Linked DNA regions of Homo sapiens. The protein of the gene in region 3 purifies or fractionates together with the protein of the main gene of each other region. This does not show direct contact. Each region holds a gene or a part of one and is shown on either strand. Other genes may lie near its edges.

Region 1 (3,500 bases), on a different chromosome or scaffold from region 3:
CCAACATGGCAGCTCTAAGGTATAAGGGTTTCCTGGTTTTTCTTTCTAAGCTTTCTGTTTTGTTTTGAAGGATTTAGAATTTCTGTTGACAGCTGTTTTTAGGGGAAATATATTTAGGGGAGATGTTTTTTAGGGGAAATAGCCATTATCCCAATTGAGCCTTTTTTTTTTTTTTTTTTTTTGAGACGGAGTCTTGCTGTGTCACCCAGGCTGGTGTGCAGTGGCGCAATCTTGACTCACTGCAAACTCTGCCTCCCGGGTTCATGCCATTCTCCTGCCTCAGCCTCCAGCTGGGACTACAGGCGCCTGCCACCATGCCTGGCTGAGTTTTTTTTTTTTTTGTATTTTTAGTAGAGATGGGGTTTCACCGTGTTAGCCAGGATGGTCTCGATCTCCTGACCTTGTGATCTGCCTGCCTTGGCCTCCCAAAGTGCGGGGATTACAGGCGTGAGCCACCGTGCTCAGCCCTGAGCCACTTTTACTAAGATTTCTAAGTTTACCATGTCACATTCTTTCCTGAGTCATATTTTGAAGCTGCCTATGCTTGACCTAAGGTTAGTTGCCTCATTTCTACCACTATGTGGGCAACAGTTTGATGAATATTAATTCCCAAAATACTGTGGCACTATTTTATTTTTGCCTTAATTTATGTTAGTTTTTCTTTTTTTTTTACTTGTTATTTGATATGTAAATGTATCTATTTCTCTATATAGATATATATTTAAATGACCAGATATGTATATCTGGTGCTACAGGGACATTGTTTTGTTGATAAATATATATGTCTGACTATACAGGGACATAGTTTAGAGCTTTTTGAATAATCATTCATTTTCCGAAAAAGAAGATGATCTAAGTTTTAGTTGTAAAAGATGAGTTCTTCTAATAATAATTCTAAATCTTTAGAATATAGTAAAGCACATTGACATGAACCATTTAAATAGCTACTCCTTTTTGAAAAATTTTAATTTCTGACCTGGATTATGCCATGAATGCTCTTCTGTCTGTGGAATTTTTGGAAGTGTCATTGGAGTGTGTGTCATATAAGCCTGCCTTGCTAACTGTGATGTACTCTCTCCTCTGTTTATTTTGCAGTCGTGCTCATTCTCCTGCGTTAGGAGTGCACTCTTTTTCAGGGGTGCAAAGGTTCAACATTTCAAGCCATAATCAGTCTCCAAAGAGACATAGTATTTCTCATTCTCCAAATAGTAATTCTAATGGCTCCTTTCTTGCACCAGAAACGGAGCCAATTGTTCCTGAACTGTGTATTGACCATTTGTGGACAGAAACGATTACTAATATAAGGTTTGTTATATATATTATTATATTCAAAGAAAAATGTTGCTGAAAGTCTTGGGAAATATATGGCATTTTGTTTAAAGTTTCCTTTTAATGTGATCAGTTATTAATATATGTAAAAATATATAGAGATATGTATTAAGGCCACCTCAGTTTCAGTAGAGGATATTAATGATATTAAAGTGATCATAGGCTGGACGTGGTGGTTCATGCCTGTAATCCCAGCACTTTGGGAGGCTGAAGCTGGTAGATCACTTGAGCCTAGGAGTTCGAGACCAGCCTGGCCAACATTGTGAAACCCTGTCTCTACTAAAAATACAAAAATTAACTGGGTGTGGTGGTGCATACTTGTAATCCCAGCTACTCAGGTGGCTGAGGCAGAATTGCTTGAACCCAGGAGGCTGAGCTTGCAGTGAGCTGAGATCGTGCCACTGCACTCCAGCCTGGGTGACAGAGTGAGACTATCTCAAAAAAAAAAAGTCATCATAAAAATATTATTTTGTCATCTGATATTTCTTCCTTTATAGTAATAATCTCTCATTTTTCGGGTGTTTTTTGTTCTGGGGAGAAACAGTTAATTTCCATCCGTGAGGAAATGTGGGGTTTTAGCACGTTTCCTAAGTTTTATGTTCATGTTAGTTGAGTGCCAGCTTTACTTTTTGGGAAACATAGCTTAGATCTCTGTTCTGGGTGACCTTTCTTCTTTTATATTCTCTTTAATAATTCACGTGTTAATTTATATGCCAATGTGTGTGCTAGTTAACAGTCTAATAAGTCACTGTCCCTGTCCTCAAAAGAGGCAGATAGCTGAAGGATGGTGACACAGGAGGGACTACTTTTGCTGGTAGGGCTTTGAAAGACGAATAGGTATTCGCTAGGCAGGGAAGTTGAGAAAGACCACAGACGGCAGCTGGGATCAGAACAAAAGTTCTGGTGAGTGCGTGGTGTATTTAGGGAATTACAAGTACTTCCACTCTGGTTTTTGCAGAGGGGAGGGAAAAGGCTAATGAAGAGGAGGCTTCCTAGGCGCAGTGGCTCACACCTGTAATCACTCACTTTGGGAGGCTGAGGCAGATGGATCACTTGAGCTCAGGAGTTCAAGACCAACCTGCCCAAAATGGTGAAACCCCATGTCTACTACAAATACAAAAATTAGCCAGGCATGATGGCGTGCATCTGTAGTCCCAGCTACTCTGGAGGCTGAGGTGAGAGAGTCATTTGAACCTGGGAGTTGGAGGTTGCAGTGAGCCAAGAGCACACTACTGCACTCCAGCTTGGGCAACAGAGTGAGACTGTCTGAAAAAGAAAAAAAGGAGGCTTGAGAGATTACTGATTGCCCTTTAGGCCTCTGGTATGTTTGATGACAGCGGTAAGAAGGCACTTTATAAGTGTGTCGGAAGTTTGGGAAAGAGCAGAACAATAAATGTGGAATTGTCAGCTTATAGGTGGTGATTGAGGTAAGAGAATTAGATTAGAATTGAAGAATTATTGTATTCAATAATTGTGTGTACATGTAGTATATAGGCCTTTTCCCAAGGAGAGGGTTTTAACATTCCTTAGATTCTCAAAGGGATTTGTGGCCTCCAAATAGTTAAAATCCAGTGGTGTAGAATGAGAAGAGGGCTAGGAACTGAAGTCCTGGAAACTTAAGATTTGGGGAATGGAAAGAGACAAAGCTGGCACAGAGAGACAAAGCAAAAGAGGTCAGATGGGAGAAGCAGCAGGAAATACAGAATACAAAAAAGAACATTTCAAGAATACAGAGATGCCAGTATTGCCAGGTACTGGTGAAGTGTGGCCCTGAGAGTTGAACCCAGAGAGGAGGTACCTGGGTGGCAGTGGGTTCCTTGGTGACCTTGGCCAGAGCATTTTAAGCTGGGAGGGTGGCGGGGGAAAGTGGGGTAGAAAAAGTAAATGGGGACTGAGGAAATGAACATAGGCATACAGACTCTTTAAGGAGTTTGCCTTTGAATAGGAATGAAGATACAAAATTAGAGGGAGTCTTGGTCAAGGAGAGTTTTGTTTTTGCTGAACTATAATAAAATTAGTTTTCATGACATCTTGCCCCAGTATTTTCTTTTTCTTTTTTTTTGAAACAGGGTCTCACTCTGTCACCCAGGTTGGAGTACAGTGAGTGACTCAATCACAGCTCACTGCAGCCTTGGCCTTCTGGGCTCAGGTGATTCCCCAACCTCAGCCTC
Region 2 (3,349 bases), on a different chromosome or scaffold from region 3:
GCTCGGATGGAAAAACTAGCTGGTTTGGTAGAAGAGCTGGAGGCTGACGAGTGGCGGTTTAAGCCCATCGAGCAGCTGCTGGGATTCACCCCCTCTTCAGGTTGATACTGCCTGGATGGTCACCTCTGGTGCGCAGCAAGTGCAAAGCCAGTGGGGGACTTTCTCACAGCTTACATAGCCATCCAGAGATCCACAGCTACGTCACTGAATTGTTAATGCACATTTGTACTTGGTTTCTCTGTATCTATTCACAGGCAACAAATACTTATATGTGTGATCTTTCAGGGAATGTTTTGTTTATTTGTTTTTAAAAGTATTGGGAATCAGATTAAGACAATCAGTTTCAGAGAACCAGGAGGTTTGGGGTTAAGAGATACTCAAAAATTTTCACAAGCCAAGTAGGGCATATATCAGATTTGGCCAACTGAATGGCGTCTGTCCTGTCATCCATATGGTGCCTGGAAATATTTACCAGTCAAGGTCAAGGTCAGCATCTGTGGTTAAAAATATAGCATTCTGACCTAAAAAAGTTATTTTGCAGATGAATGTGTTTTCAACTCAGGACCTATCCAAATGAGGAATTTTTAAATATTCTTTTTTTTTTCCTATTTTTAGACATCAATTCTATAGATTCTGACTTTTTCTAACCTCTTATAGACATGCCAAATGCTGGCAAAAAGAAGTGCTTTTTGGATATGGCAGCACTTGTAAAAATAAAGCAGTAAGCAAAATCCTTTTAAACACAGAAATCCTGAGTTCTTCTCATTGGTGGACTCAAGCAATTCTGTAGCAAATAAATCCTTTGAAAGAGCTCCAAATTGGTGGCATTATCCTTTCAAAATCTCAGGGATTTGGGATGAAGTGAAGAGGTCAAATTACTTTTTAGAAGAAGGGAATCTAAAAACCATCTCTCCTAAACAAATGGTAGACTGGCTTTACTTAAGGGATATTTGTCTTTATAGGAGTACATAAATTTATCTTAATGATATTTAAGTAGTTTTTTTTTTTTTTTGAGACGAAGTTTTGCTCTTGTTGCCCAGGCTGTATCGCAATGGCGCGATCTCTGCTCACTGCAACATCCACCTCCCAGGTTCAAGCAATTCTCCTGCCTCAGCCTCCCAAGTAGCTGGGATTACAGGCACCCGCCACCACACCCAGCTAATTTTTTGTATATTTAGTAGAGACGGGGTTTCACCATGTTGACCAGGCTAGTCTCGAACTTCTGACCTCAGGTGATCCACCTGCCTCAGCCTCCCAAATTGCTGGGATTACAGGCGTGAGCCACCTTGCCCAGCCAATTTTTTTTTAAAGAGACATGGTCTTGCTATGTTGCCCAGGTTGGTCTTGAACTCCTGGCCTCAAGAGATCCCCCCAACCTTGGCCTCCAAAGTGCTGGGATTACAGGCATGAGCCACCGCGCCTGGCCTCAAGTAAGTTTTTATACCATGATAGGGGAAAACCTGGAAGGCTAAGAGATGTGCTGTTTTCCTTCATGGGACCCCACTTTCCACAGTAAACAACTGGTATAATCATTTATTACGTTGTATGCAAATTTTGCCTTAGACAACATTTGTCTGGTTCCTTATTAATAACTTGCATCTGATCTGCTTAGAGTTGCTTAATTATAAGTAAATATAATCCCAGTAGCATTTAGCCTTAATCTCAAGAGTTCAAAATGTTTAACACATTCTACCTGACGGGAGGTGGTGACCTCATTCAGTCGGTTAAGAGCCTGAGCCCTGTGAAGTTAAACACCTGCTCATGGTCACATAGCCCAGGCAGAAGAAAATCTCGGACTTGGAATAGATCCCAGTTGCCTGATAATTCATCTCATTATTGCCTCTAAAGCAAATTGGAGACTGGGCACAGTGGCTCCCACCTTTAATCCCAGCACCTGGGGAGGCTGAGGTGAGTGGATCACTAGAGGTCAGGAGTTCAAGACCAGTCTGGCCGACATGGTGAAACTCAGTCTCTATTGAAAATACAAAAATTAGCTCAGTGTGGTGGCACACACTTGTAATCCCAGCTACTCAGGAGGCTGAGGCATGAGAATCGCTTAAACCCAGGAGGCGGAGGTTGCAGTGAGCTGAGATCACACCATTGCACTCTAGTCTGGGTGACAGAGCGAGACTCTGTCTCAAAAAAAAAAAAATAAAGCCGGGCGTGGTGGCTCACGCCTGTAATCCCGGCACTTTGGGAGGCTGAGGCAGGCGGATTGCCTGAGATCGGGAGTTCGAGACCAGCCTGGCCAACATGGTGAAACCTTGTCTCTACTAAAACTACAAAAAAAATTAGCCAGGCGTGGTGGCGGGCGCCTGTAATCCCAGCTACTCAGGAGGCTGAGGCAGCAGAATCGTTTGAACCCGGGAGGCGGAGGTTGCAGTGAGTGGAGATCGTGCCTGTGTGCTCCAGCCTGAGCAACAAGAGCGAAACTGTCTCAAAAAAAAGAAGAAAATAAATAAATAAAAATCAGAGCACAAGAAGTACCAGTCCACCAACTCACATTTTCTATATTAATAATTCTTAACTAAAAGAAGTTCCATATTCGACAGCATTTTAGTTTTTTAATAGTACTTATTAGCATCAACCATCTTGATAATCACCAAGGGAAAAATTAAAAATACCTAGACTGCAATAAACCTTTAAATTGGATTTTCAGTGAGAATTTAGAAGCAATCACTACCTTTCTCGTTTCATTTGTGTAACCATGCAGCATAGGCACTGTGTTACATCATCTTTACGCTTTGGTATTTGAACTTATTACAGAATTTTTTCTCTAAATTGGATGTTTCTTTATATGACCTTGGAAACTGAAGTGATCTTAGCATTAAACAAAAATGCTTTTTGAAGCACCTTTCTCATTGATCACTTAGCTGCTATTTTAGTCTTACCAAGAATAAGACTCTCACAATTTTTTAAAGAGAGTACCTCCCTCTCTATACCTTTTTGTCAGTCATTATGTTGCATCGTCCACAACGCCTGTTACTATGCTTTGGGCTCAAAGATGGTCCCAGTTGCTGATCTGTCATCTGTCTTCTCTTGTGCCAGTCACTCACAGGCATGAATTATAATCCTCTGAATAACACAGCAAGATACGTAATACCCCCTAATATAGAAAAGGAACTTGAAGCTCAGAGCAAGTGTCACTTGCCAAGGCTGCACAGCTAAGTCAATGGCCAAATCTGGATTTAAGTTCAACTCAGCCAGAATCCAAAGCAGCTTCTTTTAGATTCACTATGCCACATCCCACCAAACCCAACCCAGCACATTGTATTAGGAAAAATCCTAAAACTTTTGATTAAATGGTAAAAGGAAGTAACTACCTGGAGAAAATAAGGCTTCCGCTACC
Region 3 (5,573 bases):
TGTTAAAAGAGAAGACCGTAGTTAATGGTAGAATTAGATTTTTCTAGTTTGTATAGGTAACTATGTGGGAAGCAGATATATTTGCTTAATGCTGCATATGTTCTTCATAAAACAGATTCTCAGAATCAAATCAAGAACAAAGCACCCTCCAAACTTTGGAGACTAGCTATAATTCCAAAATGTATGAAATAAATGTGATGTGTGGTTTTTTGGTGAAGACTCTCATTGTAATATATATCCTGTAAGAATTTAGCACCATAGTTTTTAATCATTTTTTGGTGACTCTTCAAATTCTTTTTTTTTGAGACAGAGTCTCGCTCTGTCACCCAAGCTGGAGTGCAGTGGTGTGATCTCAGCTCACTACAACCTCTGCCTCCTGGGTTCAAGCAATTCTGCTGCCTCAGCCTCCCAAGTAGCTGGGACTACAGGCACGCACCACCATGTGTGGCTAATTTCTATATTTTTAGTAGAGACAGGGTTTTACCATATTGGCCAGGCTGGTCTCGAACTGCTGACCTCGTGATCTGCCCGCCTCGGCCTCCCAAAGTGCTAGGATTACAGGAGTGAGCCACCGTACCCGGCCTCAAATTCTTTTACTATCTTATAATTGTGGATTAGAGCCATGTGAAAAAACCCTGTCTCATTATAGTAAAATAATGATGTTACCTCCTAAGTTTTATTTTGTAAAACAGTTAAACCTCACAAATGTCATCTAGGGCAAATAGTGCAACTTACCTGGATTTACCAACTAAATTTTGAAATGGAAGCACAGAATCTTAAGAGTCTATTATGGTGGCTCCAGAGATATCTGTAAATGAATTAAAAATCCATCACCAGAACTGAAAAATCAAATAAAATTTTCTGCCATAACACAATCCTATTTGCTCTAGCATTCTTGCTCTTTGCTGTTGAGAGCTCAGATACGCTACTGCAGGGGCTACTCGGGAATTTATTCCAATGGCGCTAGTTTTATTAAACCCTCATAAAAAATTCCTAAACTGATGTTTTGCAGCAAGCTTTAGTGTGTTTATTATATAGAATACATATGAAATGTTGACGTACATTTCATGTACATCAATGTACATGACATACATGACTCCTTTTAAAAAATATTTCCTGGCCGGGCGCGGTGGCTCACACCTGTAATCCCAACACTTTGGGAGGCTGAGGCGGGCGGATCACTTGAGGTCAGGAGTTCGAGACCAGCCTGGCCAACATGGCGAAACCCCATCGCTACTAGAAATACAAAAAATTAGCCGGGCATGATGGTGTGTGCCTGTAGTCCCAGCTACTCAGGAGGCTGAGGCAGGAGAATCGCTTGAACCTGGGAAGCGGAGGTTGCAGTGAGCCAAGATCGTGCCACTGCACTCCAGCCTGGGGGACAGAGCCAGACTCCATCTCAAAAATACAAACAACAACAACAACAACAAGCCCATTTCTTTAAGCTGTAAGAGTGTCCACTGTATTGTAGTACCATAATAATTTTACAGAAGCAATTAGATGATGTAGTTTAAAGAAATTCTGATTAAGAATATAATTTTAAGCAAACTCTTTTCCATGTAAATACTTTCAAAGACAGAAATAACTGACATCATCCTTCCAACTTTATTCCTACTAATTCTTGGTCTTGTAAGGCACGTAAAAATTATTCTAATTTTGAAAATTGGAACAAGACAGCCCATTTTAGAGATAAACATAGGATCAAAACTCAGTTATCTTTAATTCTTTTATTTCTTTCTTCATTATGCCAGGCTAGTTCTAAATGCCTAAAATACATTAAAATGGAACAGAAAATCTTAAAAGGATGTTAATTTTAAGTTTCTTACTAATCTTTCCTCATAGAAATAAAGAAGCCATAACTGTTAAGCACATTTTCTAAGATTGTATATAATCATTTATAGGTTAAGACTTTTTTGGCATTGAAGATAGTAAACTTTTTATGAATGTAATTATTAAAGTATAATCAACTCACATCTTTGGGTTTATATTGGTCTTAACATGTTTCATAGTTTGCAGTATTTGAAGAATCTGAAGATGACAGGCACAGCCGTCACTTACCCATGACCGTCACCTTCCTAAAGCTGTCTCGATATCTACTGTGGACACTCAGGTTAGCGGAGAGAAAACAACTGCATTACACTACATTTTTAAGCAAACCAAAGAACTTTATTTGGAGTAATAGCTAAGAAAACAGCTTTTTATGGAAACTGAAAAAGAGAGCAGAGGAAGTATAAGAGCTACCCCTTAAGAAATAACTTTAATAGTTAAAAAACTTTCGTAGAATCTTACTAAAAAGGAGGCAACATTAGTTTAAAAAATAACTGAACAAGAATCTGGCCTAATAACCAGACCTCGGATTAGCATACTTTCTAGTTATAGATGTAAATCTTCAAAGTACATATATTCAGTACAAGTCAAAAAAAAAATAAAATAAAATAGTGCCAGACCATCCTTTACTTTTTCATGTCCTTGAAATGAGAAGAGTAATGTACTTAAGTAATTCCTTCTTAAGAATGTCCCTTAAACTATAACAACTTCATAGCATCTTGACTTAGAATATACCACATTTTCCAAGTCCTATTTGTCTATTTATATTCATTATATATAAGTAACCATGACAACAGAATTGAAGTTCCGCTTAAAAGACTCTTGCCCTTTCCAACTTTTACTTTAAGTTGGATCCCTGTTATCAGTAATACTTAGATGAACCTCCCCTTTCAAAGTAGTAAAAACTAAAGCATTAAATTAGTACCTAAAATCAAAGTACAGTTGTTATTTATAAAACTATTGTGTTGTATCCTGACATGTGGCAACAAAGATAATATAAAATGTACTCAGAGACTAATGCCATTATGAACAGAAAAGACTATATATAAATATATAATCTTTATATATATATAAAAATCTTTTTTAAAAGATTTTTAAAATAAAATTTATAAAAAAGATTTTTTATATATATAAAAAGATTATATATATAAAACATATATATATATTTTTTTCTGGAACAACTTAAAAATCAATTTTAAAAAAACTGATTAATTCACTATTGGACAGATGTTCAAATGCTAAATTTAAAATTCAGCATTATCTTCTCTCTCTTGAAATATAGGTTATATAAACAGTAAAAGTACAGTAAGTTAAAAAACAAAAGAAAATAAAGCCTTGGTTTAGTATAGCTCAAGCTTATATACACAGCAGGTATAGTAACTTGTTCACCAGAACAGAGCATCGAATAACATTGAATGAAAATTATGGCCCCCAAAAGCAGAACCTCAAAGCCAGGTTGTGGCCAGGTGAATTATTTAACCTCACTGTGCCCATGTTCACAGGCCTGATCCTTAACAAAATCTATGAATACAAACTAAATCCAAGACATGTTGAATTGATGTTTTGTAAAATGCAGTAACACCTTACTGTTAAAGGTGCTAAGGAAAAAAGCATTCAGCATACATGCTACAGAGCCTGAGCACTGAAAAATGAAAATCTTATTGTGGCTACAGATCAAAAATTCATACTGAAAAAGATATTTGTCATTTAACATGGAACCTTTCCAATACATTTTAAGGGCATACTGAAAAGGCTAGTAGTGAAAAACGGCGGTAACAATGAGATAACATACTTTGTTATATAAAAGCCTAAGTTTCATAGAAAAAAAATTCTAATTTGAAAAGTCAACAACATTAAACCCTATCTGCCATTACCAATTCCATCAAGATTACTAGGTCTTTAAATGTGGGACTGGTAAAAATAATACTTCCAGGGTTCAATCAAATAAATCAAAGTAAACCAAAACAAGAAAATTAGCTAATACTTAAAGCAGCAGCCTCAACAAATGTGTGATTTATTTCCCTTTTTGTTCAAATTTTAGTTTTTTCAGGCCTTATAAATACTTGCTGGAATTTCTAAAGCATTTCTTTCTTACGCTAAGTCTTCTCTAATAACATAATAAATACTGAATTACCTAAAACACTGTCCGACACACCTCAGGATCTGCTTCTCGGCTCTTCATGCTGATAGTGCCATTTTACTGATTCAACAAATACTTGGTTTGCAACTGATGTGGTCCTTAAACTATTCACGAGTTAGAAGACTAGCTCTAAAACCTACCTCATTTCTAAGAGTCATAAATAGGACTTTACCTGAATGCATGAAAACACAAAAGGGAAGCTTCTAAGTTGAACTTTCTAATATTCATATTTGAAATGGTTTGGAATGATTGATCAAACTTTTAAGATCTAACTCAGTGCACTTATACAACAACTAGATACCTCTGGTGAATTACAAGAATTGCTCCAATAGAAGCGTCTCTCAATCTGCTCATCAAATCTAGATCAGCTCTACCAGTGAAAACAAATTTCAAGATTTGTTTCATAATAAGTGTTAAATCTCATACAATCGAGCTATGTCATGCCACATAAGTTCTAAAGCAAATGAAAAACAAAGCCAGCCAAATTTAGGAGCTGAGCTCATGGTATAACACTTATAAAGAAATGAAAATAACACAAATTGAAAACTATAGTGACCATCTTGGGTACGACATGCAATGATACTATCACTACTATTTTGACAGCATGACAACTGAATAATTAGAAGATACACATGCATACCACTATTTCTCTATTAAGAACACATACATCTCATATAAATACATCCTCAGGAAACACTTTTTACATTAAATCGTTTTTTGACAATAATTTTGCACTGAATAACAATACATTACAACTCACTGTTGTACACCTTCAATTGCTAAAACGGTATTCTAGATGTTTACACAGAGAATTATAGGAATATGCACGAGCACTTCAAGAAAAGTTGTGTGAACAATGTTTAAAGTAAAAAAGTGTTTTATAACCAAGCTGTACGGACATTAGGGGGTTTAGGTCTTCTTCGAGGGTGGCCACTGGAGGGGTCAACCGCTGATCGCTCACTCCTACAACTGAGACCACTCGTAGCACTGGATGTCCTGGAAGCTCCTGAAAATATAAAAAGAAGAAATATCTGAGAAACTTCTCCTCACTTGAAGTCCAGACTAGTTTTTCTTCCACATTCTATGTGTGTCTAATAGTCTAATGCTATGATTCTCGACTAGGATGCACTTCAGAATTCCCTGTGGAAGTTAAAAAATATAATAACAAACATATCCAGATGCCACACCAGGGGATTTTGATTCACTGGATTGGCGTGGAAAACAAACATTTTTAAAAGCTTCTCAAATAATTCACGTGAAAAAAATGACTTTGTATAACCATTTATATATCTAATCAACAAATAACTTACTACATTTAGGGACAATGCTAAGTATGAGTTACTAAAATAAGACCCTTTCTTAGTCACTATACCACGGAAGCAAGGTTTGGAGAAGGAATAAATGGAACTACTAGTCTTGAGAGTTGAAGACTCACGAGGGCGGGCGCTGGGAAGTTGTGGCATCGGGCGGTTTGGTATTCCCTTCTATTTATTATATGGTTTAGAATGCATACATGAAGTACAGCAGAGACTTCTGTAAAGGACACTGGCCTTTCTAGATGTTGCACACTCCAGCACTAAATGGTCACTCCATTCCTGTACTCTCT
Region 4 (3,500 bases), about 160 Mb from region 3:
ACACCTACCTTCATCTGCTACATGTGTGTGGCTGGAGCTGGGAATTTGTTTCTGCTTTTTAAAGCTCTGAGTTTTTGCTTTCTGCATGATAATCAGCTTCAACCTAGCAGTGATACTAAATATACTAAGGGGTTTGACTCTTTTACAGATTGCTGGTACTTGTCTTGCATTATGTTTATCAAGTGATTTGAAATCATTATCAGTGGTCACAGAAGTCTCTACCAATGGTGCTTCAGAAGTTTCATACTTTCAGGTGAGTATTGGAACTTGATAACGGTAGAGAGTAAATATGTATTTAACAGGTTTTATATAGGTTTTTATCCACATCTCACTGTATTGTAATGATCATTAAAATAATGCAAAAAAATCGACTTGGAATTTCTACATCCTAATATACTGAGTGTTATTATAGTGAATACCATATTATTCTTCCCATGCTCCAATACAGTTTTCATAAAAAGTGTTTTGGTGGTCTATTAATGACCATATTAATTTGTTGCTATTCCAGTTTGACTTTGTACCAAGTGTTTGCTTAGGACTCTGTCCCTGATAATAACAAAGGTTAATATTTATTGATTGTTTAATATGTGCCATATGCTGAATGCTTCAGAACAGTTGATTTGAATCTTCACAGCATCATAATAGGCAGATACTGTTATTATCCCCATTTTATAGGTAAGTACATGGACACACAAATACTTCAGAACTTGCTTGATGTCACAGGATGGGAAAGTGATGCTAGACAATCTGGCTGCATAATCTGTGCTCTTAACTAGCACATTGCATCTTGTGTAAAATGATCACTTAATATTGGGAAAATGCTTTATTGCGTGCTGTCTGCATTGTAGATTAAGGAAGCTAACTGGGCTCCCATAGAGTATTTAGATCATAGCCTTGCCAAGAAATCGAAAATTTTCATCTTAAATATCCCAGCCACTTAAGTATGTGTGAACTCTCAAACAAAAGTAGAACAAAAAAGATGCAAGATGCAATGTGTGTGATGTCTTCCAACATTCTCTTTGTATTCAGAGCATCAGAGAACTCTTGGTTTACTGTTCACTATGGTAATGGTTGTTCATATTTGCTCATCTTCTTAAGGTTATGTGAAACTATGATCACCAGGATTGCATTTGGATTATAATAAAATGATTCACTACTACTGTGAAGTTGGTAACAGATCATTTTTAATGACAAATTTATTAAGATACAATTCATATACCATTGATAGATATTTTCCCAATATTTATCAGTAGCCTTTAATTCCTTATACTTCCTTTAAGTTTTTACATATATTTGTGATTTAAACATTTCTTTGTAATACTGTTTCAAAATAGGTTATATTACATTTATTCTATCTACACAGGAGGGGTTGATAACCCAGAGAGAGTGATTTGTGTATGGTTATGTGTAGGTTAGGAGATCCTAAGGCTATGTGCTGTTTCCAAACCGTTCTGCTCAAAGAGGGCACAATTCTGACATAGTCTTTCTGATACGTAGTTTGACCCACACTCTAAATTACAGACTTTGCAGCAAGTGCATCTGATGATGACTCACTTTACTCTTTTGATTTTACAGCTTGAAACTAATCTGTTGTACTCTTTCTTACCTGAAGTAACTCGGATGGCCAGAAAGTTTACTCATATTTCAGCTCTGTTACAGGTATTTATTTAGAGCTTGTTTTATGTGAATATTTATTATCGGCTTCTAAAGTTCTGTAAATAAAAAGCTTCAAAATTTTGTTTTGTAAAGCTTTCTGAAGTAGAGGTATCTAGTCTGATAGATGATCTTATAAGGTCCATTAAAGCAGGAAAAGGACATTTAATTGAGAACCTACTTTCACCGCACCCTATTTTCCACCTCCAAAAGAGTTTAAATCTTTTAAAATACTCCCATAAATAAAATACCATTTACATTATAAAGTATTGTGGGAAAAACAGTCTTCACATGAGTTTACATTTGTTCATAATAAACCCACCCCAAATTACCTCCCAATTCTGTAGGTTGGTGATTTAGGCTCAGCTTAGCCAAGATGTTTGGGTGACCTGGAGAAGGTTCAGCTGATCTTGACTAGACTTGGTCATGCCAGCTGGTATGTGTCCCTTGGCTGTGATTCCTTGTCTCTACTCCACATCCTTCATACTCCAGCGAGCCAGCACAGGCTTGTCCACATGGTGGTGGTAACGGGGCATCGAGGGTGCAAGTGGAAGTGTACAAAGACTTTTGAGGCCCTGGAGTCAACAGTGTTATTTCTGCTGCATTCCGTTAGTCAAAGCGAGACTCAAGGGCTGAAGAAATGGACTCTGCATCTGACTGGAGGGGCTACAAAAGATTGTGGCCATGTTTTTCATTCTACCACAGTCATTAATTTATTTGATATTAAAGGTTTCTAGAGATCAGTATCTTTTTAAAATTGAATAATTGACCAAACCAGTATTTTGACAGTTAGTGTAGATAAGACATATCTTATATAAAAAGCTTGGAGATATTTGTTTCACCAGATAAAAATTTAAGAATGTTTTATTATGAAATTCTAAGAATCAATGGAATGTTTCGTAGTTAAGTGATGACCAAGCTGTTGTCTTTTTCTCCATCTTAACTGAGTTAAAAGAGTGATTGAGGCTGGGCACAGTGGCGCACACCTATAATCCCAGCACTTTGGGAGGCTGAGGCAGGTGGATCACTTGAGGCTTGGAGTTCGAGACCAGCCTGGCCAACATGGTAAAGCCCCGTCTCTACTAAAAATACAAAAATTAGCTGGGCATGGTGACGCACGCATATAATACCAGCTACTTGGGAGGCTGAGGCAGGAGAATCGCTTGAACCTGGGAGGCAGAGGTTGCAGTGAGCCAAGATGGCGTCACTGCACTCCAGCCTGGACGACAGAGCAAGACTCTGTCTCGATAAATAAATAATAAAAATAAAACAGTGATTGAAAGTAAATTCTAGATTTCTTTGAGACACTTGATCATAAGCACATATTATTTAGATAGCAAGTTGGTTTAAATATTTTTTACCATTTCAATTTTTCTTTTTTGCTAATAGTATATAAATTTGTCACTAACATGTATGTGTGAAGCATGGGAAGAAATACTAATGCAGATGGATTCTCGTCTCACCAAGTTTGTGCAGGTAAAGCAGCTGAAGTTTCCCATGGAGAGAGTTAAAGAATGCATGATGTATGTCTTTACCTTGAGGTACATGAGAAAAATCAGTTTGATTCATAAAAGGCTAAGATCATAATTTCTTTCAAATGGCTTCGTCTGACTTCAAACTGCTTCCTCAGATTTGCCAAAAGGGCTCTTTTCCCATTGATACAACTTAAGTGGGGACAGGATTGTGAAGTGGAGCTGGTGGGGCTTTGGCAATAAGGGCAGGTGTTAGAACAGCTGATTGGCTATCTTCTAGTCACTGATGTTCAGATGATCACTTTATGGATTTGATGGAAGTCTAAGGCAAGGAAAGGGAGTCATGCTCCTATAATTTTGAATAAATATGCTTAT

Evidence for each region.
Region 1: the proteins of CFAP97 (region 3) and ANAPC1 purify together in Homo sapiens (affinity purification with mass spectrometry; one large-scale study listed by BioGRID and IntAct). This does not show direct contact.
Region 2: the proteins of CFAP97 (region 3) and ANAPC16 purify together in Homo sapiens (affinity purification with mass spectrometry; one large-scale study listed by BioGRID and IntAct). This does not show direct contact.
Region 4: the proteins of CFAP97 (region 3) and ANAPC4 purify together in Homo sapiens (affinity purification with mass spectrometry; one large-scale study listed by BioGRID and IntAct). This does not show direct contact.

What each region holds. Positions count from the first base shown.
Region 1 is NC_000002.12:111,860,194-111,863,693, reverse strand, and holds part of ANAPC1 (anaphase-promoting complex subunit 1), read left to right. Parts: coding exon 1-19; intron 20-1,095; coding exon 1,096-1,305; intron 1,306-3,500. UniProt on the Homo sapiens protein: Component of the anaphase promoting complex/cyclosome (APC/C), a cell cycle-regulated E3 ubiquitin ligase that controls progression through mitosis and the G1 phase of the cell cycle.
Region 2 is NC_000010.11:72,233,012-72,236,360, forward strand, and holds the end of ANAPC16 (anaphase-promoting complex subunit 16), read left to right. Parts: coding exon 1-105; 3' UTR 106-2,849; downstream 2,850-3,349. UniProt on the Homo sapiens protein: Component of the anaphase promoting complex/cyclosome (APC/C), a cell cycle-regulated E3 ubiquitin ligase that controls progression through mitosis and the G1 phase of the cell cycle.
Region 3 is NC_000004.12:185,157,953-185,163,525, forward strand, and holds the end of CFAP97 (cilia- and flagella-associated protein 97), read right to left. Parts: intron 4,974-5,573; coding exon 4,846-4,973; 3' UTR 1,713-4,845; downstream 1-1,712.
Region 4 is NC_000004.12:25,390,763-25,394,262, forward strand, and holds part of ANAPC4 (anaphase-promoting complex subunit 4), read left to right. Parts: intron 1-148; coding exon 149-253; intron 254-1,575; coding exon 1,576-1,659; intron 1,660-3,042; coding exon 3,043-3,129; intron 3,130-3,500. UniProt on the Homo sapiens protein: Component of the anaphase promoting complex/cyclosome (APC/C), a cell cycle-regulated E3 ubiquitin ligase that controls progression through mitosis and the G1 phase of the cell cycle.